Linked DNA regions of Homo sapiens: all the other regions are reported to be linked to region 7. Evidence: microRNA targets listed by miRTarBase, many of them from high-throughput screens and not tested one by one. Region 7 holds a microRNA gene; each other region holds the end of a gene's coding sequence.
Evidence for each region. The annotated mature microRNA hsa-miR-4755-3p reads AGCCAGGCUCUGAAGGGAAAGU and lies in region 7 at 2,714-2,735, opposite strand. An mRNA with a match to its seed (bases 2 to 7 or 8) in the 3' UTR can be bound and repressed. Matches are read on the target gene's strand: a 7mer-m8 pairs with bases 2 to 8, a 7mer-A1 pairs with bases 2 to 7 and ends in A, and an 8mer does both.

Region 1: the mRNA of GLTP is a reported target of hsa-miR-4755-3p. Seed matches in the 3' UTR shown: 7mer-m8 at 2,511-2,517.
Region 2: the mRNA of ZNF35 is a reported target of hsa-miR-4755-3p. The part of its 3' UTR that is shown has no 7-base or 8-base seed match.
Region 3: the mRNA of CRTC2 is a reported target of hsa-miR-4755-3p. Seed matches in the 3' UTR shown: 7mer-A1 at 1,412-1,418.
Region 4: the mRNA of TJAP1 is a reported target of hsa-miR-4755-3p. Seed matches in the 3' UTR shown: 8mer at 2,690-2,697 and 7mer-m8 at 2,569-2,575.
Region 5: the mRNA of LRG1 is a reported target of hsa-miR-4755-3p. Seed matches in the 3' UTR shown: 7mer-m8 at 1,737-1,743.
Region 6: the mRNA of DNPEP is a reported target of hsa-miR-4755-3p. Seed matches in the 3' UTR shown: 7mer-m8 at 465-471 and 7mer-m8 at 2,034-2,040.

What each region holds. Positions count from the first base shown.
Region 1 is chr12:109,849,545-109,853,827 of GRCh38, forward strand. GLTP (glycolipid transfer protein) reads right to left here. Exons shown (of 5, transcript NM_016433.4): 5 at 1,401-3,193. The coding sequence ends at 3,011. Among named protein-coding and RNA genes, the nearest start is that of TRPV4, 18 kb to the left of the region's middle.
Region 2 is chr3:44,658,826-44,663,108 of GRCh38, reverse strand. ZNF35 (zinc finger protein 35) reads right to left here. Exons shown (of 4, transcript NM_003420.4): 4 at 2,318-4,283. The coding sequence ends at 3,162. It overlaps ZKSCAN7-AS1 (ZKSCAN7 ZNF cluster antisense RNA 1), which reads left to right. Exons shown (of 3, transcript NR_157564.1): 2 at 1,723-1,847. Among named protein-coding and RNA genes, the nearest start is that of ZNF35, 12 kb to the right of the region's middle.
Region 3 is chr1:153,945,172-153,949,454 of GRCh38, reverse strand. CRTC2 (CREB regulated transcription coactivator 2) reads left to right here. Exons shown (of 14, transcript NM_181715.3): 12 at 71-340; 13 at 811-997; 14 at 1,126-1,780. The coding sequence ends at 1,346. DENND4B (DENN domain containing 4B) reads left to right here and starts at 2,737. Exons shown (of 28, transcript NM_014856.3): 1 at 2,737-3,154. RefSeq lists enhancers at 2,166-2,235, 3,047-3,547, 4,016-4,065 and a silencer at 2,626-3,525.
Region 4 is chr6:43,504,741-43,509,023 of GRCh38, reverse strand. TJAP1 (tight junction associated protein 1) reads right to left here. Exons shown (of 11, transcript NM_001350562.2): 11 at 2,470-4,263. The coding sequence ends at 3,169. LRRC73 (leucine rich repeat containing 73) reads left to right here. Exons shown (of 6, transcript NM_001012974.4): 2 at 104-264; 3 at 604-726; 4 at 1,098-1,198; 5 at 1,346-1,568; 6 at 1,716-2,056. The coding sequence ends at 1,786. Among named protein-coding and RNA genes, the nearest start is that of LRRC73, 3.5 kb to the left of the region's middle.
Region 5 is chr19:4,534,965-4,539,247 of GRCh38, forward strand. LRG1 (leucine rich alpha-2-glycoprotein 1) reads right to left here. Exons shown (of 2, transcript NM_052972.3): 2 at 1,438-3,987. The coding sequence ends at 2,976. PLIN5 (perilipin 5) reads right to left here and starts at 260. Exons shown (of 8, transcript NM_001013706.3): 1 at 201-260.
Region 6 is chr2:219,370,408-219,374,612 of GRCh38, reverse strand. DNPEP (aspartyl aminopeptidase) reads left to right here. Exons shown (of 15, transcript NM_012100.4): 15 at 271-2,570. The coding sequence ends at 321. Among named protein-coding and RNA genes, the nearest start is that of DNPEP, 15 kb to the left of the region's middle.
Region 7 is chr20:34,047,614-34,051,896 of GRCh38, reverse strand. It overlaps MIR4755 (microRNA 4755), which reads right to left and starts at 2,778; the gene lies at 2,707-2,778. The region is part of intron 2 of RALY (RALY heterogeneous nuclear ribonucleoprotein); the gene reads right to left.

The DNA.
Region 1 (4,283 bases), not on the chromosome of region 7:
AACTTCCACAGAGGCTTGATGCATGCCCCAGTTCCCTAAGATACATCCCAGGACACTGCCTCTCCTCTGAGGCTCCAGGTTCCCTCTGGGAACTGACCACTCTATTTCATCATTATTGATTTACCGGTCCATCTTGCCCACTAGATTATAAGCTCTATAGGAGCAGGAACAAAATAAAATAAATATTTCCCTCTACATTTAACCCTAGAATAAGAAAAAACAACAGCCCATGAAAAAGTGCAAACTGGTCCGGGGTGGGGAGGCAACAGGGATGGGTGGAGACTAAGGCAAAGTGAAGAACTGATTCCCCTTTCCCTTGCCCTGCCCAGCCAAGGGGGCAGTCGTCTCTCAGCTCCCACCAGGCAGCCTGGTTTTTCAAAAGAAGCTAGAAACCCAAGGTTCTTTTCTTAATTATACGTTACATAGGTATACACGTGCCATGGTAGTTTGCTGCACCTATCAACCCGTCATCTAGGTTTTAAGCCCTGTATGCATTAGGTATTTGTCCTAATGCTCTCCTTCCCCTTACCCACCACCCCTGACAGGCCCCAGTGTGTGTTGTTCCCCTTCCTGTGTCCATGTGTTCTCGTTGTTCAACTCCCACTTATGAGTGACAACATGCAGTGTTTGGTTTTCTGTTCCTGTGTTAGTTTGCTGAGAATGATGGCTTCCAGCTTTATCCATGTCCCTGCAAAGGACATGAACTCATTCTTTTTTATGGCTACAGAAACCCAAGATTTTTTTTTTTTTTTTTTTTTTTTTTTTTTTTTTTTGAGATGGAGTCTCGCTCTTATCAGCCAGGCTGGAGTGCAATGGTGCGATCTTGGCTCACTGCAAGCTCTGCCTCCTGGTTCCAAGCAATTCTCCTGCCTCAGCCTCTGAAGTAGCTGGGTTTACAGGCACCCGCCACCACACCTGGCTAATTTTTGTATTTTTAGTAGAGATGGGGTTTTACCATGTTGGCCAGGCTGGTCTCGAACTCCTGACATCAAGTGATCCACCCACCTCGGCCTCCCAAAATGCTGGGATTACAGAAGTGAGCCACTGCACCCTGCCGAAACCCAAGATTCTTATGTGAAATTCCCGTTTCTCCATGCAGCAACCAGTTCTGTTTTTTAAGACCACGGAGGCCAGGCCTGGTGCAGTGGCTCATGCCTGTAATCCCAACCCTTTGGGAGGCTGAGGCAAGAGGATTGCTTGAGGCCAGGAGATTGAGACCAGCCTGGGCAACATAGCAAGACCCCAATCTCTACAAAAACATTTAAAAATAATAGATAAATAAAATTTTAAAACCATGGACGCCAGAAAATACATTCTTGGTAGGATTTGTAAGGGTCCCCAGTTGTAATTTCTGATGCAGGAAAGAAAAAAAAATCAAGAACCAATACAGTGCACAGATGTGATTCCAAAATAGAGATTTATTTATTAAGGATTATTTAGTTTCTGCATAAAAATCTCCAATTGTTCCTCATTGGGTTTTTTCTTTTAAAACACACATCAACTCTTTTGGGGTTGCTTTGTTTGCCCCAGCACTTTAAAAAATACAGCTCTTTTTAGCGCCAGGAAGAACAGTTAAGGTTAAGGCAGTGAGGCGTTTTCTTGGATCTTAGCAGCTGAAGGGTTCATCTCTCCCCGTCAAGAGAATACACACGGTAGGTAGTTTCTTAGGTTGGAAAATCTGTCCCTGAAGGAAATAATTCTGCAGAAGAATGCAAACGGAGTCATCTATGGTCAATTGTTTGTGCCCTATAGCTTTGAAAGAAACGCCTCTTGGTCATCAAGGGCTTGCTGGTTGGTTTCAGCTGTAAAACAACAACAACAACAACAAAAAACAACCAGAAAAAAGAAAACAAACAAAAAAATCTGTCTAGCGAGACAGAAAGAGCAGGGTTTACAATAGTGCTGTGAGGCTGGGCTGTGCAAACCACATGAGAATACACACCAGTTTGCTTTTTAAAAAATCCCACATAGGGGCCCTGCATAATTTTAAATCAAACTCTTTATAGTCCTTAAAATAACAATACAGCGAGAGCCTCATAAGGTCACGTGCTTTTTTTTCTTTTTTTTCTTTTTTGAGACAGAGTTTCGCTTTTGTTGCCCAGGCTGGAATGCAGTGGCGCGATCTCGGCTACTGTAACCTCCACCTCCCAGTTTCTAGCGATTCTCCTGCCTCAGCCTCCCAAGAAGATGGGATTACAGGCGTGCGCTACCATGCCTGGCTAATTCTATATTTTTAGTAGAGATAGGGTTTCACCATGTTGGTCAGGCTGATCTCAAACCCTGACCTCAAGTAATCCACCCACCTCTTTTTTTTTTTTTTGAGACAGAGTTTCGCTCTTGTTGCCCAGGCTGGAGTGCAATGGTGCGATCTCAGCTCACTGCAACCTCCACCTCCCGGGTTCAAGCGATTCTCCTGCCTCAGCCTCCTGAGTAGCTGGAACTACAGGCGTGCGCCACCATGCCCAGCTAATTTTTTATATTTTTAGTAGCGATGGGGTTTCACCATGTTGGCCAGGCTGGTCTCAAACTCCCGACCTCAGGTGATCCACCCGCCTCAGCCTCCCAAAGTGCTGGGATTACAGGCGTGAGCCACGGTGCCCAGCCATCATGTGCTTATTTTTAAAGCGAGGTGGATGACACCATTCCCCCAGAGCTGTGTTCCTCGTTGGCAACAAAACAAAACCAAAAAACCCTAGGACTTGACTCATTAGAAGTGTTAATCGGTTTTTACCACGCTGAAATGAAGGTATAAAGTCAGTCTGTGCTGTCGTGAAATTCCAAGGAGATTTGGAAGTAAGATCATTATTTACTGGTCCTTTAGAATAGACCAAAAAAAAAAAAAAAAAAGACTTAAAAAACGAGGGCTGTCCCCTGCAGACTCTGGCAGGACCCTGGGCTGCTCTGGGGGACACAGGCCAGGGGCAGTTCACCGACTTGATTCACAGTGATTCTGGTTTGCCTGTTTCTCCATGTGGCCACGAGTCGGGGACGTGTCCAGCAGTGGGCATGCCTACACCTTGTAGTTAAGCTCAGCGTTCATCTGGGTGTACATCTCGTAGATGACATCGATGGTCGCCGTGTAGTTGACTAGGAAGAGGCGGATCTTCTCCAGGCACTCCTCCTCCGTAACATTCTGCCCCTTGGAGAGCGCTTTCAGGAAGTCAGACTTATAGGGTGCTGCGTACAGTGCTGCCTTGAGACAGGCAAGAAGGGAGGTAGGCACAGCGTTAGCGGGGGCTGAGGAGCCAGGCCAGCAGGCCAGGGTTCTGGGAGGGGTCTTCCCTGGGTCTGTGCTGGACAGGGGGTTGTGCTATTTGAGGTGTTGGAAGGGAAAGGAAAAGGGAGGTGTATTTTGAGCGACAGCAGGAAGGACATCAGCTTTCGGGACAGACAAGCCTAGATGCAAATGCCAGTCTGGGCCATCAACTAGCTGTGAGCCTTGAGCAAGTCAGTTAGCCTCTCTGAGCTTCAGCTTCCTCATCTGCAAAATGGGGATAATGGCTGCCACCTAATCGGGTTGCTTTTATAAGGATTAGGGGGCTTGTACAAAGTGCTCAGCACAGCACCAGGCATACAGTAGGCACTCAGCACAACACCAGGCACACAGTAGGTGTTCAGCATGGGTGAGTCTCTTCCCTCTGGGTTCCCTGCTCCAGAAAAGGTGAACTGCTCCTTCGGAAAACCCACTTTCTGAGTTGGGGAGACGACTGCTAAATATGCTGTAGTCTCTCTTTTGTCCTTAGGGGGGCGATACTTCCCTAAATTTCAGAGCTGCTCCCATACTTGAAAAGTACAGAGAATTCAAAATTCACAGAATTTCAGAGCCAGAAGAAAAAAGGTACAACTAGATAAAAAGCTTAGGCTAGCCAAGCACGGTGGCTCATGCCTGTAATCCCAGCACTTTGGGAGGCCGAGGTGGGCAGATCACAAGATCAGGAGTTCGAGACCAGCCTGGCCAATATGATAAAACTCCATCTCTACTAAAAATACAAAAATTAGCCAGGTGTGGTGGCTGGCATCTGTAGTCCCACTACTCGGGAGGCTGAGGCAGGAGAATTGCTTGAACCCGGGAGGCAGAGGTTGCAGTGAGCTGAGATCACGCCACTGCACTGCAGCCTGGGTGACAGAGCGAGACTCCGTTTCAAAAAAAAAAAAAAAGTTTAGGCCATGAGTTTGATAGGATGAGGAAAGTATAAATATTATTTAAAAAATTTTTTTAGACATAGTCTCACTCTGTCCTCCAGGCTGGAGTCAGTGGCGTGATCTTGGTTCACTGCAACCTC
Region 2 (4,283 bases), not on the chromosome of region 7:
CTGTTCTGCTAAAAATACATAGAATGCTTTGCACGTACAGATCCTTATACTGGAGCACCCCCACCCCCTCCACCTTTGATCACACACATTCTTGGCCTGCAGCCTTTACTTTTTGCTACAGTGGCTCATAACCTTTGCTTGTCATTGTAATCCCCTCCAGAGTTTTAAAAAATACAGAGGTCTAGAAATGGAAATTTTAAAAAAGTGCCCAATGTGATTCTAACATGAAGCCAAGGTTTAAAACCACTGCTTTACTGCAAGGTTGGGTCAGTGAATCTCAAACCTAGTTTTGCATCATAATCCCCTGCGTAGCTTTTCTGAACTACCTATGAGTGAAAATCACAATCATCCATAACTGAATATTATGAGGATAAACATATGTGATGGTAGAATGGTTTAACTGTCTTAATGGTCATAAATCCCAGCAGGTATTCTTTAAGCAAAGTAGTTTCTGTCTCTTGGTGGGTCAAGGTCACAGAGTTTTCTCAAATCTTCAGACCTGCTCTCCTGATATTCTCAGCTTCCTGATAAGGCAGGGGGAAAAAACTAACTTGTTCCTACTCTCAGCAGAGACAGGGGGTGGTTTATTTGGGTCTCTCCATTCCATCAGGGAGACTGGAACAGTCACTGTTAGGATTGGTGAGGGCATGAGTATTTGATCCTACTTTTGAATCCTTTTGATTTCTTGTATTTGTGTCTCTATGATTTAGAGTGAAACTGGGAAAGTAAGTTGCATATGTTTTGGAAAAAAAACTAGAGGAGGGAGGAAAAAGGAAATTAATAAGCTTTCTTGTGTATGCCTTCTGTATGTGAAAGTGCACTGTAGGCCAGGCATGGTGGCTCGTGCCTGTATTCCTGACACTCTGGGAAGCCGAGGCAGGTGGATCACCTGAGGTCAGGAGTTTGAGACCAGCCTGGCCAACATAGTGCAACCTCGTCTCTACTAAAAATACAAAAAAGGCTGGGCGCAGTGGCTTACTCCTGTAATCCCAGCACTTTGGGAGGCCAAGGCAGGTGGATCACGAGGTCAGGAGTTCAAGAGCAGCCTGACCAACCCCACTGCTACTAAAAATACAAAAATCAGCTGGGGGTGGTGGCGTGCACCTGTAATTTCAGCTACTCAGGAGGTCGAGGCAGGAGAATCACTTGAACCCGGGAGGCGGAGGTTGCAGTGAGCCAAGATCGTGCCACTGCACTCCAGCCTGGGCAACACAGCAAGGCTCTGTCTCAAAAAAAAAAAAAAAAAAAAATTGGCCAGGCGTGGTGGCATGCACCTGTAGTCCCAGCTACTCGGGAGACTGAGGTAAGAGAATTACTTGAACCTGGGAGGCAGAGGTTGCAGTGAGCCAAGATTGTGCCACTGCACTCCAGCCTAAGACTCCATCTCAAAAACAAAACAAAACTAACACACAAAAGAAGTGCTCTGTAAACTAGAAAACACTATGTGATTAATATTTAGTCTTGCAGAAATGTGATAATAAATGCATGGGACTTCTGCATGAGAGCTGCATCAGGCTCAGCATTTATGATAAATGCTCTTGCATGCCCTGAGGCATTGGAACAGCATGGAGGGACAGAGCCAGAAATCAGGAGACCCAAATTCTAGTCTTAGGTTTGCTGATTTCTGGTCACAGTGCCTAAGGCACACTCCAAACATCTGTCACATCAGCTTCCTCACCTGAAAAATGGGACTACACACCCCTTTCTTTGTCTCCCCTACAGGTCTGCATGGGGATTACAGGTGTTTGGCAAGTGGCATGGCAGAACAGAGAATCTAGATTCAGGACCTGGACTTGGATATAAGCTGTCACTTGTTACTTGGCCTTGCACTAAATGACCATTCTCAGGTAAATGGGCAACCACCTGTTTCAGTGTTGTAAGGACTGAGGTAGGTGATCTATGTGAAAGCGTGAGATACGTGCCAGGTATCATGATCAATACATAAGGGTACACAACAAAGAATAAAAGTTCTATATAAATACAAGGCAATATTATTACATAACTCTACCTATTGCATAGTTTTATAAATCATTTTTCCAGGAGTAAAGGCTGAATGGTAACAAAGATATCTTACCTTGGCCAGTTTCTTCATCCTTCTAAAAGTTTTTCATATTCCAATACCTCTGAATTTCTCAAAAAATCAAATTAAGACCTTAGGAATCTTATTTCCACCTCCCCTCTCCCATCACTTTCCCTCTTTGGTCTTCTCAGAATGAGAAGAGCTCCACTATTTCTTCTAAACACCATCCAGAATGTGAGAATGAAACCCAAACTGAGACCCCTGGCTGGACTTGAGCAGAATGACAGCAGAGACAACTGGGGCATGCCTCTAGGCAAGCTTTATTCTTTGACTCCTTCATCCAGGAAGGGGCTGTTAGTTGCATCTCACCCAAATGGAATGCGATGGGAATTGGGGGCTTGAGTTGTTTGGAGAAGGAGCTGTTGATCTTGGCAAATGAATATAGCTGGTGTGTGGTGTCCATCAATCCTTGAGTGCTTGGCCATGGAGACTAGGGAATGGTCAGAACAGACCCAGAGGTCCCCAGATCTTTACAATACCAAGGTTCAGGAGGTATAGACAGTAAGGAAAAAGTCCATTTCCTATTTCTGTCCATTTTCAGTAAAGTTTTTGTTTTGACTGGCTTTTAAAAAATTACCTAGGAAATGGAAAGCTTATAAACATTCGTAAGTGAATTGTTGAACTGCTACCCCAAGTGGTTTCCTTACCCAGTCACCACTTAACCAGAAATATTAGAATACACGGTTCAACCAGAATTCAACCAGGCAGATAACCTGCCTGTTGCTCAAGCAATCATCAGAGTTTTAAAAAACAAAATTAAGCAAAAAAGACCTTTCCCCAAATAGCATCATTACCACTTAGCTTTGTACGACCCATTCCTAGGAAAGCCACATTCCACTTCAGAGAACATGACCGCTTAAGGTACAGTTAAAACAAAGTCCTTGCCTTTAGGTGCTTACTTTTTGTTTTAAATTAGCCTCTGAAATGCTTTTCTTGTGTCTTCTGCTGCATTCCTGAAAACTATAACTTTTAAGGACACAGCCCTCACTTTTATAGAGGAGGAAGAAAACAGCAAAGAGGTGTCTCATTAGGGAGGCAGAAGGTTATGACCAATGCTGGAGGTCTTCCTCTTCCTTACTTGTTATTCAACAAGATGGGTTCTATGGTGTCGCATGAGGTGTGAGTTGGAAATGAAAGCTGCACCACACTTCTCACATTCATAGGGCTTCTCCCCAGTGTGGGTTCTCTGGTGCACGGTGAGGCTCGACCTCTGTCTGAAGGCCTTCCCACACTCATTACATGTGTAAGGTTTTTCTCCATTATGAATTCTCTGATGAATAAGTAGGTATGAGCTACATGTGAAGGCCTTCCCACATTCATTACACACGTAAGGAAGATCTCCACTGTGAATTCTCTGGTGGACAATAAGGCAAGAGAGCTGACTGAAGGCTTTCCCACATTCGCTGCAGTCGTAAGGTTTCTCTGCAGTGTGAATTCTCTGGTGCACAATAAGGTGTGAAAAACAACTAAAGGCTTTCCCACACTCTTTACACTCATATGGCTTCTCACCAGTATGGCTTCGCTGATGTACAATAAGATTTGCACTCTGGGTAAAGGCTTTGCCACAGTCGTTACAGGCAAAGGGCTTCTCCCCAGTGTGGATCCTCTGGTGGACAATGAGGTTTGAGCTCCTAGTAAATGTTTTCCCACATTCATTACATTCATAGCATTTTTCCGTAATGTGGACTTTCTGGTGCCGAGCAAGTTGTGAGCTGTAACTAAAGGCTTTCTCACATTCATTGCACTTAAAAGTTTTTTCTAAGGAGTGGATTTTTTGATGTACAGTCAGATTTGAACTCTGAGTGAAGGCTTTCCCACATTTTGAGCAAACATAAGGTTTCTGTCCAGTGTGGATTCTCTGATGCACAACGAGGTTTGCACTCTGAATGAAGGCCTTCCCACACTCATGACATTCAAAGGGTTTCTCTCCAGTGTGGATTCGCTGATGCACAACGAGGTTTGCACTCTGACTAAATCCTTTCCCACACACGCTACACGTAAAAGGCTTTTGTCCAAGCTGGGTTTTTGGATTTTTAACAGCGCCAGAATTAAGGCTATATTTTCCTCCAGATTTCTTACATTTCTGGTTTTCCTCTTCTTTGAAGCTTTCAGGTAAGTGACAGTCATTCACTATCACTTGTCTGAAATCTTTCTTTTCTCTCTTTATTCTCTGCCTCTTTAACATGTTTCCCTTTTCACAAGC
Region 3 (4,283 bases), not on the chromosome of region 7:
GGAAGCTCTGACTGAGAGTTCTTGGGGTATACACTGAGCAGTAAGCTTCCCTCTTTTTACTTCTTTTCAGGGCGTCCCCCTGGATACCAGTAAACTGTCCACTGACCAGCGGTTACCCCCATACCCATACAGCTCCCCAAGTCTGGTTCTGCCTACCCAGCCCCACACCCCAAAGTCTCTACAGCAGCCAGGGCTGCCCTCTCAGTCTTGTTCAGTGCAGTCCTCAGGTGGGCAGCCCCCAGGCAGGCAGTCTCATTATGGGACACCGTACCCACCTGGGCCCAGTGGGCATGGGCAACAGTCTTACCACCGGCCAATGAGTGACTTCAACCTGGGGAATGTGAGTACTCAGGCTCCTTGCTCAAAAGCAGGGGAGTGGGTGAGGGTGGGTCAATGGGGCCTGAATGGCATGGCTGGTGCACTGTGAATGGGGAGATCTAGGTGGGGTGGGTGGTGGGGAGATCTCCTCTCCCCGGAGGTAACATAGCACTGCCAGCTTGGGGCTCCTCTCTTCCTGCGTTTGACCCTACTCCTGCCCCTCTATTTCTGCTCAGCTTGCTCTTTGATGACTTCTGCCTTGACCCGTTCTCTTCCTGGCATGCACATGCTCTGGCCCAGCAGGTACGGTGCCCATACTTACTTCGGGCCCCGTGCTCGCTTCTGTCGCTCTGCTTGCTGCCACCTCCCTCTGTCATTGCCTCTGTTCCTGGGGTGGATGAAGGTTGCTGGGCAAAGGGGATATGTTAGCAGGGCTAGGCAGGACACCAGTTCTAAATCCTACTTCCTAAAGATTTGTCTGTATGTCTATAGCTGGAGCAGTTCAGCATGGAGAGCCCATCAGCCAGCCTGGTGCTGGATCCCCCTGGCTTTTCTGAAGGGCCTGGATTTTTAGGGGGTGAGGGGCCAATGGGTGGCCCCCAGGATCCCCACACCTTCAACCACCAGAACTTGACCCACTGTTCCCGCCATGGCTCAGGGCCTAACATCATCCTCACAGGTGAATGGGGGTGGGTGGTGATGGGAAATGGAAGGAGGAAGTGACACATTCACTAATGAGTAGGAGATTGAGGGGTCTTGGAAAAGTTTACAGGACATGGGGTCCTCACCTGTCTCTTCTACCCACAGGGGACTCCTCTCCAGGTTTCTCTAAGGAGATTGCAGCAGCCCTGGCCGGAGTGCCTGGCTTTGAGGTGTCAGCAGCTGGATTGGAGCTAGGGCTTGGGCTAGAAGATGAGCTGCGCATGGAGCCACTGGGCCTGGAAGGGCTAAACATGCTGAGTGACCCCTGTGCCCTGCTGCCTGATCCTGCTGTGGAGGAGTCATTCCGCAGTGACCGGCTCCAATGAGGGCACCTCATCACCATCCCTCTTCTTGGCCCCATCCCCCACCACCATTCCTTTCCTCCCTTCCCCCTGGCAGGTAGAGACTCTACTCTCTGTCCCCAGATCCTCTTTCTAGCATGAATGAAGGATGCCAAGAATGAGAAAAAGCAAGGGGTTTGTCCAGGTGGCCCCTGAATTCTGCGCAAGGGATGGGCCTGGGGGAACTCAAGGGAGGGCCTAAAGCACTTGTAACTTTGAACCGTCTGTCTGGAGGTCAGAGCCTGTTGGAAAGCAGGGGTAGAGGGGAGCCCTGGAAGCAGGGCTTTTCCGGATGCCTAGGGGTGGGCAGTGCCAGCCCCTCCTCACCACTCTTCCCCTTGCAGTGGAGGAGAGAGCCAGAGTGGATACTATTTTTTATTAAATATATTATTATATGTTAATAAAAAAATCATATCAAACCCTTGGTGTGGTTAGTTATTTGGGGCATGGCTGGGGATCTAGGGAGTTATAGGGCCATGGGTCTTTTTATCTATTAGGCTTTTTGCATCTTCTTAGCACCACTGTGCTTTGTGGAAGGGCCCCACAGCCTCGGAATTTGTACCCAGCTGGATGTAGGCTTCCACGGCAGCAGGAAATCACTTCATGTGCCCTCCTGTCTGTCCAGGGCCCTGCTGCAGCATCAGATGGGGGCTTTGACTGATCAGACAAGTTATTCCTCTTCCTCAACCCTAGGTCTGGCAGTGAGTCGGGTAAGGAGGTGATTGCTGGCTGAGCCCACAGGTCTGAAGTGCTCCTAGGTCTCAGGGAAGCAAGCCTTCATCCTCACTCCCTCACTATGCATGCATTCACTTCACCCTCTCCACTCTTCACCACTCATTCATTTTAGTTTTAATTAAACAGATCCTTCAGTGCCATGCATGTTCTGAAGGTTTTCTCTTTCTGGATTGGGTTGCCAGCCCTTGGACCAGCCGTGTGGGCCTCTGCACCCCTCACTCCCCCAACCCGCATAGTGAGAAAAGTAGAGCCCCGCAGTTACCTTACCCCCACCTCCACTGCTCTATTCCACACCCTGCAGTCCTGGCCTCTCTTCCTCTTTCCAAAGCTCTTGTCATTTTCAAAAAAGAGAACTGAGAGCTTCTGGTTCTGGTCCAAAGGGAATGCCCTGTGCCCTAAACCTGGAAGTAGGGGGAGCCACCTGGGTCCCCGTAGACTAGACCTTCGGGACTTCACCTGCGCCCACATCATGCTTGCCACATCTGACTGCAGGACCCAGGCGGGAAGGGAGCGCGCCGCGGCCCTCTGGGTCGCCTGGGGTCAGTGTCCTGAGGCACGGGCTGGATGGTGGGAAGCTACCTGGGTGCAGGGGGCCCTCCCAGCCGCCAGGGGTCGGGCTGCAGGCGGCTGGGCTTTGGGCAGACGCTTGCCAGGGTCACGGCCGCCGGCCGAGGAGGAGGGGTGGGGGTAGCGGCGGCGCCCGCGGCCCGGAGCGGGGGTTGGGGGAGTAGAGAAAGCGGGGCGCGCGGAGGAACGCTGGGTCCCCGGCGCCGCGGGAGCTGGGAGGACCGAGCCGGCCGAGCGAGCAGCGCGGCAGCACAGTCCCCGCGTGGCGCAGCGCGGCGGGGACGCGGGGACCGCCCGGATCTCCTTCCACTGCGCCCCGCGCTCTGCGGTCCTCGGCCGCCTCTTCTTCCTTCACTCACTGCCCGGGCGGGAGCGGCGCCCAAGTCGGGTGCGCCATGTCTGGGGCCGGGTAGCCCCGCCGCCCGCCGGCCCGCCAGCTCGCCCTCCGAGCCACCCGCCAGCGGGCCGGCCGGCCGGGAAGCGCGGGACAGGCAGGTAGGGGCTGGACCGGGCTGGGCGGCAGGCGGGGACGGGCAGGAGGGAGCGCGGGCGGCAGGCGGGGTGGGGGATGGCCCCCAGCTGCTGTCCCTCACTGCACATCTGGTTCCGGTTCCTCTCTCCTGGGGAAGTGAAAGTGGAGGGGAGGGCACCTCCCGCAATTAGCTCGCCGTGCCCGGCCTCCTGCACCCCCTTCTGCTCCCGTGGGTGCCGGAGTCGGAGCCGCCCTCCCTCCCGCTTGGGTCACGCGGCGGCCGGCGCTGCTGCCGTCACGTCCTCGGCCGCCGGCGCGCCTGCTTCTCTGCCCTCCTGCTCCTTCCTCAGCCTCCTCCCCCTCGGCGCGCCCTCTGCCCCAACCCGAACTTCCCGTCACCCGGCACGCGGGCGTGGGGACCCGGAGTGGGCCCTGTGCCCGTTGTCTTCCCTAGGGAGAAAGGGCTGCTTTCTGCAGGACTCTTCCCTGGCTTGGTGAGGGGAGGCCCCGGTGCGCAGGTCCTGCGGATGGGTGCCACCCACTTGCCCCTCAGAAGGTCCCACCTAATGGCCTCTGCCTGCTGCCTTGGGCATAGGGCTCCCATTCGCCCTCAGTGGATGAGGGACAGGTCTGTGCCCCAGAATTAAATCAAGAGGCTGACGCTGACTCCTGGCTTTACCTCCCAGAAGTGGAGTCTAAATTTAGCTGGGGTTGGTGTGTGTACGTGTGTGCGTGTGTGTGTGCGTGTGTGTGTGTGTGTGTGTGTCCAGAGGCCAGGTGATGAAGAAAGCCAGCCTGGCTCTATGAGATTCCTTATTCCCTGTTCTCTGGGGGAACAGCAGGAGGTTAGCAGGACTGCACATCCTGGAACCATTCTGAGCCTCCTCTGCCTTGCTCAGGATCCTATAGTCTGAGATTCCAACTTGGCGTAATGCTGTGCTGGCACCTTCAATGGTAACCCCACCACCGCCACCGCCACCACACACACCCATAGGCTGACTTCCTCTGAGTTGCAGCTTCCCCTCCACTGTTTCAGGAAGTAACCTCCCTTCCCCTCTGAAGCACCCCCCACGCTTCTGGGCCCCTGCTGCGAGCTACCCACCAGGCTTTTTCCCAGCTTCTGCACCCTGGGGCGCCTCAGGACCCTT
Region 4 (4,283 bases), not on the chromosome of region 7:
GACTGCCCTCCCCATACCTAGGGCTGACAGAAGTGAAAGTGCCCCTTTCCCATGTAGATAGTGCGGAGGACTGCAGTAACCCTGCTCTCTCACTCTCCTCCAGCCTGCATGGGAGCCCCCTGACAGATGCGGGGCTGGCCTTGCTGAACCCAGCCCTGGCCCTCCACCCTGCCCTCGTGGCTCTGGACCTGGGGGACTGCATGCTGGGTGATGAAGCCATCAACCTCATCTGTGGCCTCCTGCCCCCAGATGGGGCCAAATCTGGTGAGCAGGACCCTGTTGAGGGCTTGGGCTAGTGTGGCAGTGATGAAAATCGAAATGCAGAGGGAAGGGGGTGTGGCCCCAGAGCTCTGATGATGTGGGCGAGAACATCTTTCTACTCCTCTCAGGAAGGGGCAGGACGGGGGGCAGCATGGAGACTCAGGAATCCAGGCTGGGGCAGGCAGAGGAAGCATGGGCCTCCTTAATGGCTCTTGACCTCTATGGTGGGGGTAAGGTGGTGCCCAGCCACTAGGGACACCCCAGAGACACAGGGATTGTGGGGAAGGGCTGGAGGAGGGCTTAACCCTCCCTATTCTGGTTTCTTGCTATGATGCTGCCCAGGCTTGAAGGAGCTAACGCTGAGTGCCAACCCTGGCATCACCCCTAAGGGCTGGAGCCGCCTTGCCATTGCCGTGGCCCACAGCTCCCAGGTCCGCGTCCTCAATCTGGATTACAACCCCCTGGGTGAGGCTCAAGAATACCCCCTTGGGCTGTCACTGCCTCATGCCCTATCCAAGAGCCTGGGACCATCAGTTGACATGGTAACCCGTACACTGGGAGAGGGAAGAGAAACGGGAGCCCCCAGGGGTCAAGGAGATAGCTTTGTGGCGGACCAGGTGACCAACAAATAGATCAAAACATCAGTCACCACCCGTGGGCCTAACTTGCTTCGTGCCTTCACTCACCAATCACAATGATCCCTTCCTGACCACCACCAATTGTCCATGTTTCCTTGGCCAGGGATTAGTATCTAAAGTTGTTAAGGCAATGGGGAAGCTATCTGTAAGGATTAGCAGGCATGTGTATGAATGTGTGCACGTGTGTTGTCTCCCCAGGTGACCATGTGGCAGGAATGCTGGCTGTAGCTGTGGCCTCTAGTCGTACCCTAGAGGTCCTAGACTTGGAGGGCACAGGGCTCACCAACCAGTCAGCTCAGGTGGGAAGTCGTCATGTTTGGGCACGGCCAGGGGATGGGGTGGAGGTTAGTTTATGTGTCTGATGACATACCTAAGGCATGGCAGGTTGAGGTCTGAGGACCTGCCTTAACTGTGTTCATCCTTTTCCATATTCTTCCCCACTTCAGACCCTGCTGGACATGGTAGAAAATTACCCCACAGCTTTGCGGAGCCTGGTGTTGGCTGAGAACAGCATTAGCCCAGAGCTGCAGCAACAGATCTGTGACCTCCTCTCTGAGGGAGAGGAGGAGGAGGAAGTGGCAGGAGGGGCTGGCGACACCCAGGAATGGGAGAGAGGGCGGGAGCCTGCTGCCCACCAGAGAGGCAGCAGCTCCTGGATGTGCCCCAGCGGTAAGAACCCAGAGGGTTGATCAGAGCCAGGTCTGGAAGAGGCTCGGGACAAGGGAGAGTGGGTGTGCAGAACCTAGGCTCTCACCTATCTGTGGTCCCCATTGGAGGAAGGAATGGTGGTCTGAACACTTCTCTGCCCTTCCACAGATCCCAGCTCTCAGATGGTGCTAATGACGTCAGGACTAGGGGACAGTCTGTTGGCTGAGACCGAGATGTGACTCTCCACTGGGCCTCTGCACACCATTTCACTTATCTATGTCCCGAGCACCTTGCCCCAGATATCAGGGTCAGGCCCTGGGACTTGGGAGGGAACTGGGGTCAGGGGCTGCATGGGGGCTCTGGCAGCTCCTGGCAGTGTGGTGGGAAGGAAGCTCTGGAAGCTGTGACTGAGCAACAGCCTTGGGGGGCACTTGAACCCACGGCAATGCCTTTGAACTTGGCAGCTCTGGCTGCAACCCGCTGGCTCGGAAAAGATTTTATGAACTCCACAACCTGTCGTGTGGCTGTAGTCACTTGGGGCCGGCAGTAGGGGAGGAATTGGAACTACCAGTAAGCACCACTAGGGGGCAGTAGCATCGCACAGCCCAAGCTCTAAGCTGCGTGACCTGGTCCAGGATCTCAAAATAGGCCTGGCCAGGCCTAGAACCCAGGCCTCTGAGGCAACACCTTACACTAGCCCCATAAAGATATGGTCCCTGCCTCCGAGGGAAGACTCAGGAACCCTGCTAAGGTTACTTAAGGTGCCCCCTTTCCCGCTCCCTGATGCTCTGTGCCTAGGGAAACCCTAGGCAGAGTGGGGCGAGGGGGAGTCACTAGCCGACTAGGATGAGACTAGGACTGGGAATACTTATGAATGGGGAGAAAAGTGGGAGAGGGGAGGTCATTAAGACAAGTTAGGCCATACCAGTAAAATAGTTTTATTTGATTTTAAAATAGTCATCAATGTGAAAATTTCTCAAAGCTTAAGAGTAACAGTCTAGAGCCAAGGTTGGGAGTGGGGGCCAGGCCTCACACAGAGCCCAGCTTGAGGCCCCTGAGCCCCACCCTCCTTTCCAGAGGGAGGGAGGAGACAGCTGAGGGGGCCCTGAATCAGTCCTCTCCCTCGTCCCCAAGGCCAGCTGTGCCAGGCCCCTGGAGGGCAACAGCTCATGCGGAGGACTGGGGGGGGAAGCAAACAGGTAGGAAACGGAAATGAGGTTAACAATTACACCATCACCCCCAAAAAAAAACAAAATAACAAAACTTGTGACTATGAAAGGATGGAAGATGAATACTGATAAACTCCTCAGCTCCCCAGAAAAGCCCAGTCTGGGCTGGGTTGGGCTGATTGGAGGAAAGGTCTTGAGACCCAACTGCATGTTACCTCTGAAGAATAAATATTCTAAGAAAAAGGGAAAACCATGAGGCAAGCTGCTGCAGTCAGTCAACGCAGCTGACAGGCCTGGCATGGCCCACAACCTGACCCCATCCACACAGGAAACAGCTGTGCGGGTCTGGATAGAGGAGAGGTCAAGGGCTTGGACTGGGGACCCTGAGCTGCCAAGGTGTGGGGACTCCTTGCAGTCCTGGTGCAGCAATGGCAGGAAGGCCAGCAGGGGCCCTAGTTGAGCAGGTTGCCCTGCTCCTGGGCCTGGGTCAGGCTGTCCTTGCGGTGCAGGTGGTGAACCCCCATCCTCTTGGGGCTGCGCTGGGGGCGACTGGAGCTGGGGAGTGGCCAGGCCCTGCCCTCGGTGTGGGAAGTGCCTGGCCCCTCCTCTGTGCCCCTGTTAATGGGCAGCAGGCTCTGGCGCTCTTCCTCAGGACTGATAGGCAGGTTCAGCTCTTCTTCCTCCCTGGGAAAGCCAGAGTCAGGTTCTGTGGGTAGCAAAAGCTCACTCTCTTCGGGTCGGGCAGAAGGTGCCTGGACCACCTCATCTCTGTCAGCGGGGCTATGGGCAAAATGGCGCTGCAGCTCAGGGAGGGCATCGCGTCCAAAGGCTGTGCGCTGGGCCACAGCAGCAGGTGGTGGAGTACGGTCCACAAATGCCCGCTGCCAGCTGACCAGCAGGTCCTCTTCAGAGCTGGCAGAGCTAGCTGGGGCACTGAGTGTTAGGGGTGCTGGGCTGGGCTGGTGGTGGGGTGAGGCCTGGGCTGAGGCAGGGGTGCTGGGCACTGGGCTGGGGCGGGCCCGCTCACTCCCCTCCTCTACCAGGCTCAGGGAAATGGCCTGGCGGGTAGCGTAAGTGCAGTTGGGCAGGGGGCTGTTGCGGGGGATCCGAACCTTATCCTCAGAGAACTCTATTACCCTGCGGCCAGGATACAGTGGGTGTGGTGGAGACGGGGTTGGGTAGGGGTTCAGCTTCTCAAAGGCTGGCAGGGGCAGCTCTTCCTCCGGGGAGCCCCTGGCAGTACCCAGAGAGTGGCACTCCCCATTGGGTTGTGGGGTGGGGCTGCCAGGGGCCGGGGGACTGGCTGGATCACCTGGGACACCCTCACTCATGTCCACATGCACAAAGACATCCTCAGCCAAGGGGCGCCCGGCGCTGCCTGACTGGGCTGAATTGAGCAGTAGAGACTCCGGCTTCTCTAACACTCGGGCAATGACTGAGGTAGGCACCACAGCCCCTGGGGCTAGGCTGGGAGCAGGACCTGGGCTGGCGGCCTCTTGACCACTGTGCAAATGTTTCCGAACCATGTCCTGTAGCTCACAGGGCAGCTGAGGTAAAAGAGCAGGAA
Region 5 (4,283 bases), not on the chromosome of region 7:
TTGCCACCCCGCGTCCTCTGAGGCCTGGTCCTCGCCCAACTGGGTCCTGAGCTGGGGCCAACCGGGCCAAGGGTCCCAGCCACCTGCTCTGGCCGGTCATACCCGTCCCACGCCGCCGGACCTTCGCCCAACCACCCTATCTGGAGCTCCTCTCCTAAGCCCGGGGGGGCGCTCCCGGACGCCGCCCTCAGGGCACTCACCTGGGCGCGAGCGGCTTCAGACACCAGCTGTCTCCGCCGACCCCAGGCTCGAGTCTCCACACCCCCGCCGGTCCCGCCCGCCCTTCTTATAGCTGCTCGCGCAGTGGGGGCCTCCGGAACTGACCAATGGGGAGAGGCCGTGCGGGGGCGTGCCCAGGGGGCGTGGCTCCAGGCTTCCCTCGCCCTCTCCTTGAGCTGGCCCAGTGCCCTACGGTTGCCATAGTAATTCGGGAGCGCTAGATTCAAAAGATTGAGCTATTATACGTTCCCGGACCAAGTTTGGCCACCTGTCATCCTCACTGCTGTTGCCATAGAGACAGTCCATGCGATCACAGCCCCCATAGCCCTGCTGAGTGACCTTGGCCAACTCGCTGATGACTTTTCTTATTAATTATTATTATTTATCGATTTTTGAGACTGGGTCTTGCTCGGTTGCCCAGGGCTAGAGTGCAGTGGTGTGATCATAGCTCACTGCAGCCTTGCCCTCCCAGGCTGAGGTGATCCTCCCGCCTCAGTCTCCTAAGTAGCTGGGACCACAGGCACACACCACCACCCCCAGCTAACTTTTTAAACTTTTTGTAGAGACGAGATGTCCCTGTGTTGACCAGGCTTGTCTTCAACCCCTGAGCCCCAAGTGATCCTTCCACCTCAGCCTTCCAAATTGCTGGGATTACAGGTGTGAGCCATTGCACCCAGCCTCTTTTTATTTCTTAATCTGCCCCTTAACTAAGCCAGAAGCCAGGCCTTCCCTTTCCCTAGGATCCCCATTTCACAGATGAGCAAGCTGAGGCTCAGAGATCATAAAACACTTGCCCCGCATACCACAGCAAGTGAGGGATCCTATTCCTTTTTTTTCTTTTTTTTTTTTTGAGACAGAGTCTGACTCTGTCGCCCAGGCTGGAGTGCAGTGGCGCGATCTTGACACACTGCAACCTCCGCCCCCTGGGTTCAAGTGATTCTCCTGCCTCGGCCTCCGGAGTAGCTGGGATTACAGGCGCCTGCCACCACACCTAGCTAATTTTTGTATTTTTAGTAGAGACGGGGTGTCACCATATTCGTCAGGCTGGTCTTGGACTCCTGACCTCGTGATTTGCCTGCCTTGGCCTCCCAAAGTACTAGGATTACAGGCATGAGCCACCGTGCCCGGCCAGGGATCCTATTCAAACCCAGCCCTGCTGGACCTCAGAACCCTGCCTTTTCATTGCCTTGCCTGGAATGACCACAGATGTAGGCATGGTCTTTTTATTTTTATTTTTATTTTTGAGACACAGTTTCACTCTGTCGCCCAGCCTGGAGTGCAGTGGCGTGATCTTGGCTCACTGCAACCTCCGCCTCCCAGGTTCAAGTGATTCTCCTGCCTGACCCTCCCAAGTAGCTGGTATTACAGGCACGTGCCACTGTGCCTGGCTAATTTTTGTATTTTTAGTAGAGACAGGGTTTTGCCATGTTGGCCAGTCTGGTCTCGAACTCCTGACCTCCGGTGATCTGCCTGCCTCAGCCTCCCAAAGTGTTTGGATTACAGGCATGAGCCACGGCGCCAGGCTGCATGGTCATTTTTTAGGGAGCTGGGAAAACTGGACATGCCCCCAAGCCCCAGGGTCTTCCAAATCCGATTGCAGCCCCCACATGGCCAATGCTGTATCAGCAGGTGGGCCCGGGACCCTGCTCATCCCTTCAGCCCCATCCTGCCCCTGCAACCTTGCCCGGGGGCAGGTGCCCCCTTCGATGATCTCAGGTCAGCATGACAAATCGTTTGGAGACCTGGGCAATCTGGTTTAACTTAAACCTTCTCCTAGGACACAAGCCCTGGCAGAAATCCACTGGTAAAATGACACCCGGGCAACAGTCAAGGTTTTATTTCCAGTTAGGTCCCAGGATGGGGGAAGGGAGAGGAGAAGTCACAGGCCATTGATCCCAACTGTCATCCCCTAGGGAGACCATATCCCACACCCCAGGGCCTGGGCCATGCCTCTTTTCCTCCTTCACCCTGGAGTCCTGGGAAGTTGATTTGAGAAGATGCTAGGAACACAATGAAAGCCAATTCATCCGATCCAGTTTTCAAGGGTTATTTATTAAACCCCTTGGTTCTGACCCCAAGCTAAGTGGGACTCAGCATCAGACCCTGCACTCAGAGAGCCCCCTGACTTGGGGAAGACAGAGTCAGAGAAAGGCAGCCCCAGTGTGGCCAGGGCTCAGCTGGAAGGAAGGACAAGGGGCTGGGAGAACCCAGAGTTCAAGAGATCTGGGAAACAGGGAACGGCATTCCAGACGGAGGGCACACCTTGGGCATGGGTAAGGAAAGCCCATCGTGTGTTCTAGGAAGCATGGATGGATGAAACGGGGTCCCAGCCGCTATGGACAGCCCCGAGTTTCACCTGTAAAAGGCAGGATTATTTGTTTTTAATTTTAATTTTAATTTTTTTGAGACAGTCTTGCTCTGTCGCCCAGGCTAGAGTGCAGTGGCACGATCTTGGCTCACCGCAAGCTCCGCCTCCCAAGTTCACGCCATTCTCCTGCCTCAGCCTCCCGAGTTGCTGGGACTACAGGTGCCCACCACCACGCCTGGCTAATTTTTTATATTTTTAGTAGAGACAGGGTTTCACCATGTTAGCCAAGATGGTCTCGATCTCCTGACCTCGTGATCCGCCCACCTGGGCCTCCCAAAGTGCTGGGATTACAGGCGTGAGCCCCCGCACCCGGCCAAAGGCAGGATTATTTGTTAAGCGGGTTGCAGTGTTCTACCAGACCCCCCACCCTCAACCCAAGCCCCTGGTCTCACTGGGACTTGGCCACTGCCAGGAGCGTCTGGCCCTTCACGGCTTCAGGCCCAGCACAGCGCGTGTCATTCTGGGAAAACATCTTGTCTTTTTGGGCCTGAAGCCAACGATAGAGGTCGCTCAGGTTCTGGTCACAGATCCAGGGGTTGCCGGAGATGTCGAAGCCATCCCGCATGTCCCAGTTTGGCTGCCCTAGGGATGCCCAGAGCCCCTCGGGCACGCTGGCCAGTGAGTTATTGGAGAGGTCCAGCATGTCCAGCTGCCGCAGGCCCTGGAAGGCACCGGCTGCCACCCTGGCCAGCTTGTTGCCGTTCAGGAAGAGGTAGCGCAGGTCCGGCTGCGGCAAGAGGAGATCTTTTCCCAGTACTTGCAATTTGTTGCCTTCTAGATGTAGCCGTTCTAATTGCAGCGGACCCCTCAGGAGGTCAGGTGGCAAGGTCTCCAACTGGTTCTCCCCAAGGTCAAGGGTGCGCAGGAGGGTGAAGTTGGCCAGCAGCCCGGGGGGCAGTTTCCGGAGGCGGTTCCCAGACAGGTCCAGATGCCCCAGAGCTTTCAGGCCGTGTAGCCACGAGACCTCCAGGACCTCCAGCTGGTTTTCTTTCAATACCAGGGTGTCCAGGGTGGCTGAGGCCTGGAAGAGGCCCGGGGGCAGCCCGGTCAGGGCGTTTCGGGTTAGATCCAGCACCCTCAGCTGCGGCACTGGCCGCAGGAATTCGGGCGAGAGGCTTTCCAGCCCATTGCTGGAGAGGTGCAATTCTTGGAGCTTAGAGGCGCCCTGGAGGAGGTTGGCTGGCAGGTGGGTCAGGTTGAAGAATTCCACGGCCAGGTGCACGGTGTCGGCTGGCAGGTAGCCGGGGATTTCGGCAGGTGGTTGACAGGAGATGGAGCTGCCATGGTCTGAGCGGAACACCTGGCAGTCTTTGGGGCTCAGGGTGACCCCCCAGGCTGAGGCTGCCAACAGCAGCAGCAGGAACAGAGTTCTAGAAACATGGGGTTGAATGCCCCCTGGGCTGCAGGCAGTAACAGAAGATGCTTACTAAACCACAGTGAAAATACACTCAGCTAGGTGAAAATACACCAGCAAATCCGCCCACTTCTTCCCATCTCTGCGGCTACCAGCCTGGACTATGCTACCTCATCTCTCACCTGTACTAGGGCAGTTGCTTCCTCCTCCTCTTCCAGCTTCTACCCTCACCCCCGACAGCTGCCAGAAGTGGCCCCTGTTCCAGGGAGAATTATAATTCTAGGAAAGTTGAGTTTCTGAGTGTAACTCCCGCATAATATGAATACACTTCCCCATCACCAG
Region 6 (4,205 bases), not on the chromosome of region 7:
ACATGGCAAGTCCATGTCTCTACAAAAGAGAAAAAAGAGATAAAACAACGGTCCTTATTCTTCTCAAGGCTCAGGGGCCCTGACCCAAAGAAATGGAAAATGAGGGGATGGGAAGAGGGGATCAGGGCTGAGAAGACTGGGGTGGCTGTCAAGAACAGATGAAACCTCGGTGCTTCTCTTGCTGGAACATATGTTGGTGGGAGGTGGGTGGCAGGACATCTCCATCTGGTCACTCACTAATTCCAAACTCCATGTTGCCTCCCATTATAGGGCTTCTTTGAGCTGTTCCCTTCTCTAAGCCATAATCTCTTAGTGGATTGAGCCCTCTTGGAAAGACTTCTCTGCCATCCCTTTGCACCTGAGAGGGGAAGTTCTCAGCTGAGCTGAAGCTGGATTATTAAAGTGGATTGTCACTCAGACTCTCCGTGCTACGCTTATTTGGAGACTAGAGGAGTGGGAGTTGAGCCTGGCTTGAACCTTTGGAACCAGAAAAGTTGGGGAGCAGGTGGAGGAGGCCACACTCCTGGGAGCTGATGGTTTTAAATCTGGTTTTAAATCTCTTCTCTGTCTCAAGTCCATGTCTGAAGTGGGTGAAGGGTGGACTGGATCCTCAAGCAGAAGGTCACTTCTCCCACCCCTAGTCCTCCACCTGGGAAATGGCCTCAACGGTCTTCCCTCTTTCCATCCCCAGAATGGGTGTCCCGCTCTGCCTTCAGAGATCCTGTTCTGCACTGGGCCACCTTCAGAGCTGCTCTGGGCAGACAAAGCTGTTTCTCACCCTCCCAAAATCCCTTCCCATCCCCTCTCAGGAGCTGCAAAGAGAAGGGCACAGTCTATACCTTATCACCCTTCATCATCCACTTCTCAGCAGTCCCTGGTATTACTTGATTGTGAACATATTATCAGGAAAAAAGATTATCATTGAAAAAATTGGAAAAGTCAAAGTCTGGCCGGGTGCAGCGGCTCACATCTGTATTCCCAGCATTTTGGGAGGCCAAGGCAGGTGGATCACTTGAGGTCAGAGTTCAAGACCAGCCTTGCCAACATGGTGAAACCCATCTCTACTTAAAAAAAAATACAAAAAAATTAGCCAGGCATGGTGGCACACACCTGTAATCTCAGCTATTCAGGAGACTGAGGCAGGAGAATAGCTTGAACCAAGGAGGCGTAGGTTGCAGTGAGCTGAGATGGAGCCACCACACTCCAGCCTGGGCAACAGAGCAAGGCTCTGTCTCAGAGAAAAAAGGCCAGGCGTGATGGGTCATGCCTGTAGTCCCAGCACTTTAGGAGGCTGAGGTGGGCGGATCACCTGAGGTCGGGAGTTCAAGACCAGCCTGACCAACATGGAGAAACCCTGTCCCTGCTAAAAATACAAAATTAGCCGGGCGTGGTGGCACATGCCTGTAATCTCAGCCACTCCGGAGGCTGAGGCAGGAGAATCGCTTGAACCCAGGAGGCGGAGGTTGTGGTGAGCCAAGATCCTGCCATTGCACTCTAGCCTGGGCAACAAGGGTGAAACTCTCTCAAAAAAAAAAAAAGAAAAAGAAAAAGTCAAAGCCTGCTTATAAACCAACCTCCTTCCTTCCACTAAAATAATTGTGCAAACTGGTGTCCTTCCAATCTTTTTGATACCTATATAAAAGTTTATTTCCATATAAATATTCCACTTCAGCTTTCTAAAAAACTTAATATAATATAGAGATATTTCTATATCAATACATATAAATTTAATTTAGCAATGGCAAAAAGTTAGAATTCATCTAAAGATTTCTCAGTAAAGGCAAGCCCAAATACACTATGAAATGTCCATTATAGGTAGCTATTGAGAAAAAGATAAATTGTATAGTGTGTGTACTAACATGAAGAGATTACAAAGACATTGTTGAGTAGAAAAGGCAGGTTGCAGAACTGGACACAGGACAAGGAGTACCTTCAAAACATTATATGGCCAGGCACGGTGGCTTATGCCTGTAATCCCAGCACTTTGGGAGGCCGAGGTGGGCAGATCACTTGAGGTCAGGAGTTCAAAACCAGCCTGGCCAACATGGTGAAAACCTCTCTACTAAAAATACAAAAAAAATTAGCCATGCGTGGTGGTGGGTGCCTGTAATCCCAGCTACTCGGGAGGCTGAGGCAGGAGAATAGCTTGAGCCAGGGAGGCAGAGGCTGCAGTGAGCCAAGATTGAGCCACTGCACTCCAGCCTGGGCGACAGAGCCAGACTCCGTCTCAAAAAAAAAATTATTATATATTTTTATGTGTATATAAATATGCACGTAGATGTATACATGTATAGAAAAAGCCTGGAAAAATGCACCTGAAACTTTTACAGTGATCTTCTGGGTTGGGAGTGACAAAAGGGCCTTAGCCTTTTTGTAATGGTTTCCTTTTGTATAACAGAATGTACCATGTATTACTTATGTAAAAAATTTTACCCTCACACTGTATTTACTCTTACAATTGGCGTACAGTATTTTATTGTATAGATGGTCATTATTTATTCAGTCTGTTAATAATGGTCATTTAAGTTTTTCTCCAGTTGACAACTCTAAATAACATTGAGATAAATGTACATATATCATTGTACATTTGCCTTGGTTTTTCCCATGGGATAAATTCTAGAAAATGCCAGCTGAACTATAGTGACAGCAGACCAGTGGTTGCTTGAATGTCAAGGATTGAGAGAGAGTTTGGTTGCAAAAGGGTGCAAGAAAACTTTTAAGAGGGTGATAGAAATGTTACCCCAGAGGTGGAAGAAAATCCACATATAAATGGACCTGTGCAGTTCAAATTCATCCACTTACATGTGGATTTGTCCCAATAAAAGTTATACCGGCCAGGTGCGGTGGCTCACACCTGTAATCCCAGCACTTTGGGAGGCTGAGGTGGGCGGATCATGAGGTCAGGAATTCGAGACCAGCCTGGCCAACATGGTGAAACCCCATCTCTACTAAAAATACAAAATTTAGCAGGTTGTGGTGGTGGGCGCCTGTAATCCCAGCTACTTGGGAGGCTGAGGCAACAGAACTGCTTGAACCTGGGAGGCGGGGGTTGCAGTGAGCGGAGATCGCACCACTGCACTCCAGCCTGGGCAACAGAGCAAGACTCCGTCTTGGAAAAAAAAAAAAGTTATACCAAGTATGCCTGGCTCTCCTGAACCCCCACCCCTGCTACCCCCTATTCTACCTCCTCCGCCTCTTCTCCCACTGTTGCCCCAACCAACCCTTCTCTTCCTCCTCCTTGGCCTACTCAACATGAAGACGACAAAGATGAAGACTTTATGATGATCCACTTCCACTTAATGAATAGTAAATACATTCTCTCCCCCCCCCACCTTTTTTTTTTTTTTCAGACAGTGTCTTGCTCTGTTGCCCAGGCTAGAGTGCAGTAGCAAGATCTTGGCTTAGTGCAACCTTCACCTCCCAGGTTCAAGCGATCCTCCCACTCAGCCTCCTGAATAGCTGGGACTACAGGTGCCCACCACCATACCCAGCTAATTTTTTAATTTTTTAAAGAGACAGGGTCTCACTACATTTCCCAGGATGGTCTTAAACTCCTGGCCTAAGCATTCCTCCTGCCTCAGCATCCCAAAGTACTGGGATTACAGGCATAACATTTTCTTTTCTCTAGCTTATTTTATTGTAAGAATACAGTGTGTAATACATAGAATATACTTCATATGTGGTAATCTGTTTATGTCATCAGTAAAGCTTCTGGTCAACAGTAATTAAGTTTACAGGGAGTTAAAAGTTATACATGAAGGCTGGGTGCAGTGGCTCATGCCTGTAATCCCAGCACTTTGGGAGGCCGGGGTGGGCGTGTCACCTGAGGTTCGGAGTTTGAGACCAGCCTGACCAACATGGAGGAACCCTGTCTCTACTAAAAATACAAAATTAGCCGGGCATGGTGGCACATGCCTGTAATCCCAGCTACTCGGGAGGCTGAGGCAGAAGAATCACTTGAACCCGGGAGGCAGAGGTTGTGGTGAGACAAGATTGTGCCATTGCACTGCAGCCTGGGCAACAAAAGCGAAACTCCATCTCAAAAAAAAAAAAAATTGGGGTATTATTTCCATATAATAAATTATACACTTAAAGTGTAAAATTCTATGAATTTTGACAGATATACCATATACACCTGGGAAACCACCACCACAATCAAGATACAGAACCTTTCCATCATCCTCTTGTACCCCTTTGCAATCAAT
Region 7 (4,283 bases):
GCAGTGGCTCACGCCTGTAATCCCAGCACTTTGGGAGGCCAAGGCACCTGGATCACGAGGTCAGGAGATGGAGACCATCCTGGCAAACACGGTGAAAACCCGTCTCTACTAAACAACAACAACAACAAAAAAAATTAGCCAGGTGTGGTGGCAGGCGCCTGTAGCCCCAGCTACTGGGGAGGCTGAGGCAGGAGAATGGCATGAACCCAGGGGGCGGAGCTTGCAGTGAGCGGAGATCACGCCACTGCACTCCAGCCTGGGCAACAGAGCGAGACTCTGTCTCAAAAACAAAAAAAAAGTATCAAATTTCAAAGACTCAGAGTGCAATATACTGAAAACGCTATCCTATGAGATAGGATACCTGCAGTTACTAAGCTCCTAACACATGTTCTGTACTGTGCTAGCATTTTCCATTAATTATATCATTAAATCCATACACAACCATAAGGAGTAGACATTGTTATCCTCGTATTACAGAGAAGGAAACTGAGCTCAGAGAGGCCAAGTAACTTGCCAAAGGTCACACAACTAGAAAGTGGCGAGCACCAGATTTCAAACCCAGGAGTACTCATTTTCCAAATCTTGGTTCTGTTTTGGGCTCTGCCACCATGACTATCAGATGGTCCCTAACTCTCTTTAAAGCTTCCTGGGCCTTAGTTTCCTCAACTGTCAAGTGGGAATAGTAATCCTTACACTGCTTCCCTCACAGAGTTGCTCTAAGGTTCAAAAGCAGTAACACGTATGAAAGGGGTCTGTAATATATAAAGATGTGAATATTAGGGGCATTTGAAACATCATGAATAAACGTTGCTATTTCTGTTCATGAATTTTAAGCTGTTTGTTCTTGCAAGGTTCCCAGTCATCCCTTCCCAAATAGTGCTCCTTAAAATTTTCATCAGGATTTTGAATAAACAGGAAATATGTCCATTTCTCTCAGTATTGATTACTCTCTAGGCTGTCTGACAGACTCACACTAAATTGCCAATCTGCTTCTTAGGAGTCAGGAGTGAAAACATCAGAGTGGGTGAGAGCCTGGTGGGAGGCCTGTGAGCTGGGAGTTATCTGAATAGAGATAGCATACTGGCTGTGGGGCTAGACTCCTCACCATCATCTTGGAACATGGCTGGGAAATAGGTCCAAAGGGTCATTTGGACAGCAGATCCCAGCAGCCTCTGTATGAGATCTGTCCAGGAGACTAACCCCATTATATGGGATGGCAAGAGGGGGAGGTGACTGGAAATGAGAAATGGGACCAGGCTGACCAGCTACACTCTCAGATAGAGACTACCCTGACAAGGGCCTAGGCACAGACACAGAAGTAGTTGGGTGCAGGGCTCTCAATTCATCCTTCAACCCTGCCTGATATCACATCCTCATAACCCACATTGCTGTGGCCATCTGCTCCCTCTAGTTTCTGGCAGATTAAGGCCAAAAACAACAGCAAAGCATTTTTGGATCAAGGTCCTGCCTGGGGACAGAGAAGTAAATAATACAAGTCCCTGTTCTTAAGTAAGGCACTAGACCAAGACGGTTTGAGCCTAACTAGAGGCTCTCTTGCATAGCAAAGTCTCTGGCACATGGGTTATATTCAAGAATTGTTTGAACCGAACTGAATCAAAGGAACCTACATTCTGCAAGTTAAGAGCACCTGTTTGGTGTCAGGAGCCCAAGACTTCTAGATTCAATCCTGGTTCTGACATGTACAATTCAGGGACTCTGGACCTCAGTTTGCCCATCTGTAAAGTGCACTTTGTCTACCCCACAAGTTGCTATGAGTAGCCAATGAAGTAGTGGCTCAGTAAATGGCACTCTGTAAATGGCATGAGATGGAACAGCAGGAGCTGATGGGAGCACGGGCGCACATGATCTTAAAAGTTTAGAGTCCAGCCTGAAGAAGACCTGAAATAAGCTCCTTTCTTTCTCCCCAGTCAGCTTAGATCTGCTTTTCAAACACAGCAGACATTCTCTGCATTTCTGGTGACTGTGAAAAGGGGAAGGGGATAATTTGCCACTAAGTAGGGGATAGAAAGAAAGGTTGCCATCTTTATACTTTTCAAAATAAGAGCACGGGATTTGGATTTATAATCCTAACTTTTGTTAATCAAAAGCTGTGAAACTATGAACAAGCCTCAACCTCTCTCAGTTTCCTCATCTGTACATTGTGGGGAAATTTCCTAAGTCATAAGATTGCAGTTAAGGTTCAATGAATTAATGATGTCAAAAGTGTTTTGAAATCCACAAAATGCCAAACAAACGCCAATCATTACAAAGTTGTCTGTCTTCTCATCAGTTTACCAGCTACATAGGACAGTGGTTATTTACCATTTGACAGGTGAGATCATCAAAGCCCAGAGAAAGTGCTTAAAGTAACACACAGCTCAATTCTGACTTCTTACAGCAGAGGTAACTGTTCCTTTACTACAGGGGTTCTTAATTAGCCTGCTTGCCTCATTAAACTGACAGATCTCTGAGGGAGGGGACTACATACATCTTACACATTTTTGTACCCCAGTGCCCATCATGGCACACCTAAAAGATGTGAAGTGTTACTAGAATGATGACTAACATATTGGTAGCAGAAACATATCTAGAACTCAGGACTCCTAATCCCAGATCCAGGGTTCTTTACAACCATACAGTGGCCCAAACCTCATAGACTCGGCTTGCCTTAACATCTCATCTCTTCCTCAATTCTCCACTCTAGCAAGATTCAACTTTCCCTTCAGAGCCTGGCTTTCATAGATGCCAAAGCCAGGCTCTGAAGGGAAAGCTGAATCTGGCTTTCATAGATGCCAGTTCCTCAGCCATAACCTTCCTCATCTCTCCTTGCTGAGCTAATTCCTATCCATCTCTCAGACTTGGAGGCCTTTCTAATCTCTCCTAATACTGGGTCAGGTATTTACTTTCCTCCATGGCTGTTTTGTTTATCACAGAGTCCTGGCACACAGAATGTGTTAAAAGTATCTGTTGAAGGCTGAATGAATGAAACACTGGGTGTAGAAATCCAAAGGTGATGCAGAGAAAATTTTTTTTTTTTTTTTTTGAGACGGAGTCTCGCTGTCTCCCAGGCTAGAGTGCAGTGGTGCGATCTCGGCTCACTGCAAGCTCTGCCTCCAGGGTTCACGCCATTCTCCTGCCTCAGCTTCCCGAGTAGCTGGGACTACAGGCGCCCGCCACCACGCCCGGCTAATTTTTTGTATTTTTAGTGGAGATGGAGTTTCACCGTGTTAGCCAGGATGGTCTTGATCTCCTGACCTCGTGATCCACCTGCCTCAGCCTCCCAAAGTGCTGGGATTACAGGCGTGAGCCACCACGCCCGGCCGCAGAGAAAATATTCTTGACCTGGAAGTCATGCAGCCTGACTGATTCTAATTCTAACTCCACTACTAATGCGTTTCGTGATCTTGAGCAAGTCCCAGTTCTTCTTTGGACCATCTATAAATGAGTTACACAGTATGATCTCAGAAGGTCCCTCCATTGTTAAAAGCATATGAGACTTAGACTCATGTGAAGTCCTAGGGATGAGGAGATTCCAAAGCCAGCTATATGCTCCATAGCATAGGAGACCCAACACTCTCATCCCCCCAGGAGCACGAGAGACACACGACTCTGCTGTCAGGAGCCTCCCAGCCCATTGGTTTACTTAATTCCTCTTGATGAAGTGCCAAGAATAAATCGTAGGTGAGCAGCAGAGCATTTTAACGAGTCCAGAGCCTAATGAATCTTTTCCTTCCTGTGTCAATTAGAATTTCAAAGCTAGGATCCCCAAGGACCAATTTATTGGGAACAGAGAGAAGAAGCCTTTTGTTCATCAGCAGCTGCCTGAGCTACCTGCTCTGCTCCTGTATCTCTGCTGTGTAACAATCCTGCTTACTCAGATATAACATCTGGCACAATAAAGCCTGGCCTGGAGGCTCCTTCTTGCCCAACATTTCTGGGGTCTGAACTTGAGGAAGGAAACAAGGGTCCAGGGTATTTCTGAGGGCAAAGGTGGGGTTGGGGGTTGGTCAGGGAATCAGAGCAGTGCTGACGTTGCTGCTATCTCCTAGGGATACTGGCCTTCAAAGAGCTAACAGCCACAGATCACCAGGCTACTCACCCAACTAAGTATCTGGTACTGTGTGGCACCTATTTACCTGTTATTTTAAATCCTCACAACCTCAAAAGCAGATATCAACCACATCATTTTAGAGAAAAGGAAAAAGAGGATCTGAGAGCTAAAGGATCAGCCTAAGGAACACAATTATTACAGTAAATGGCAGAGAAGGATTTGAACTCAGGTC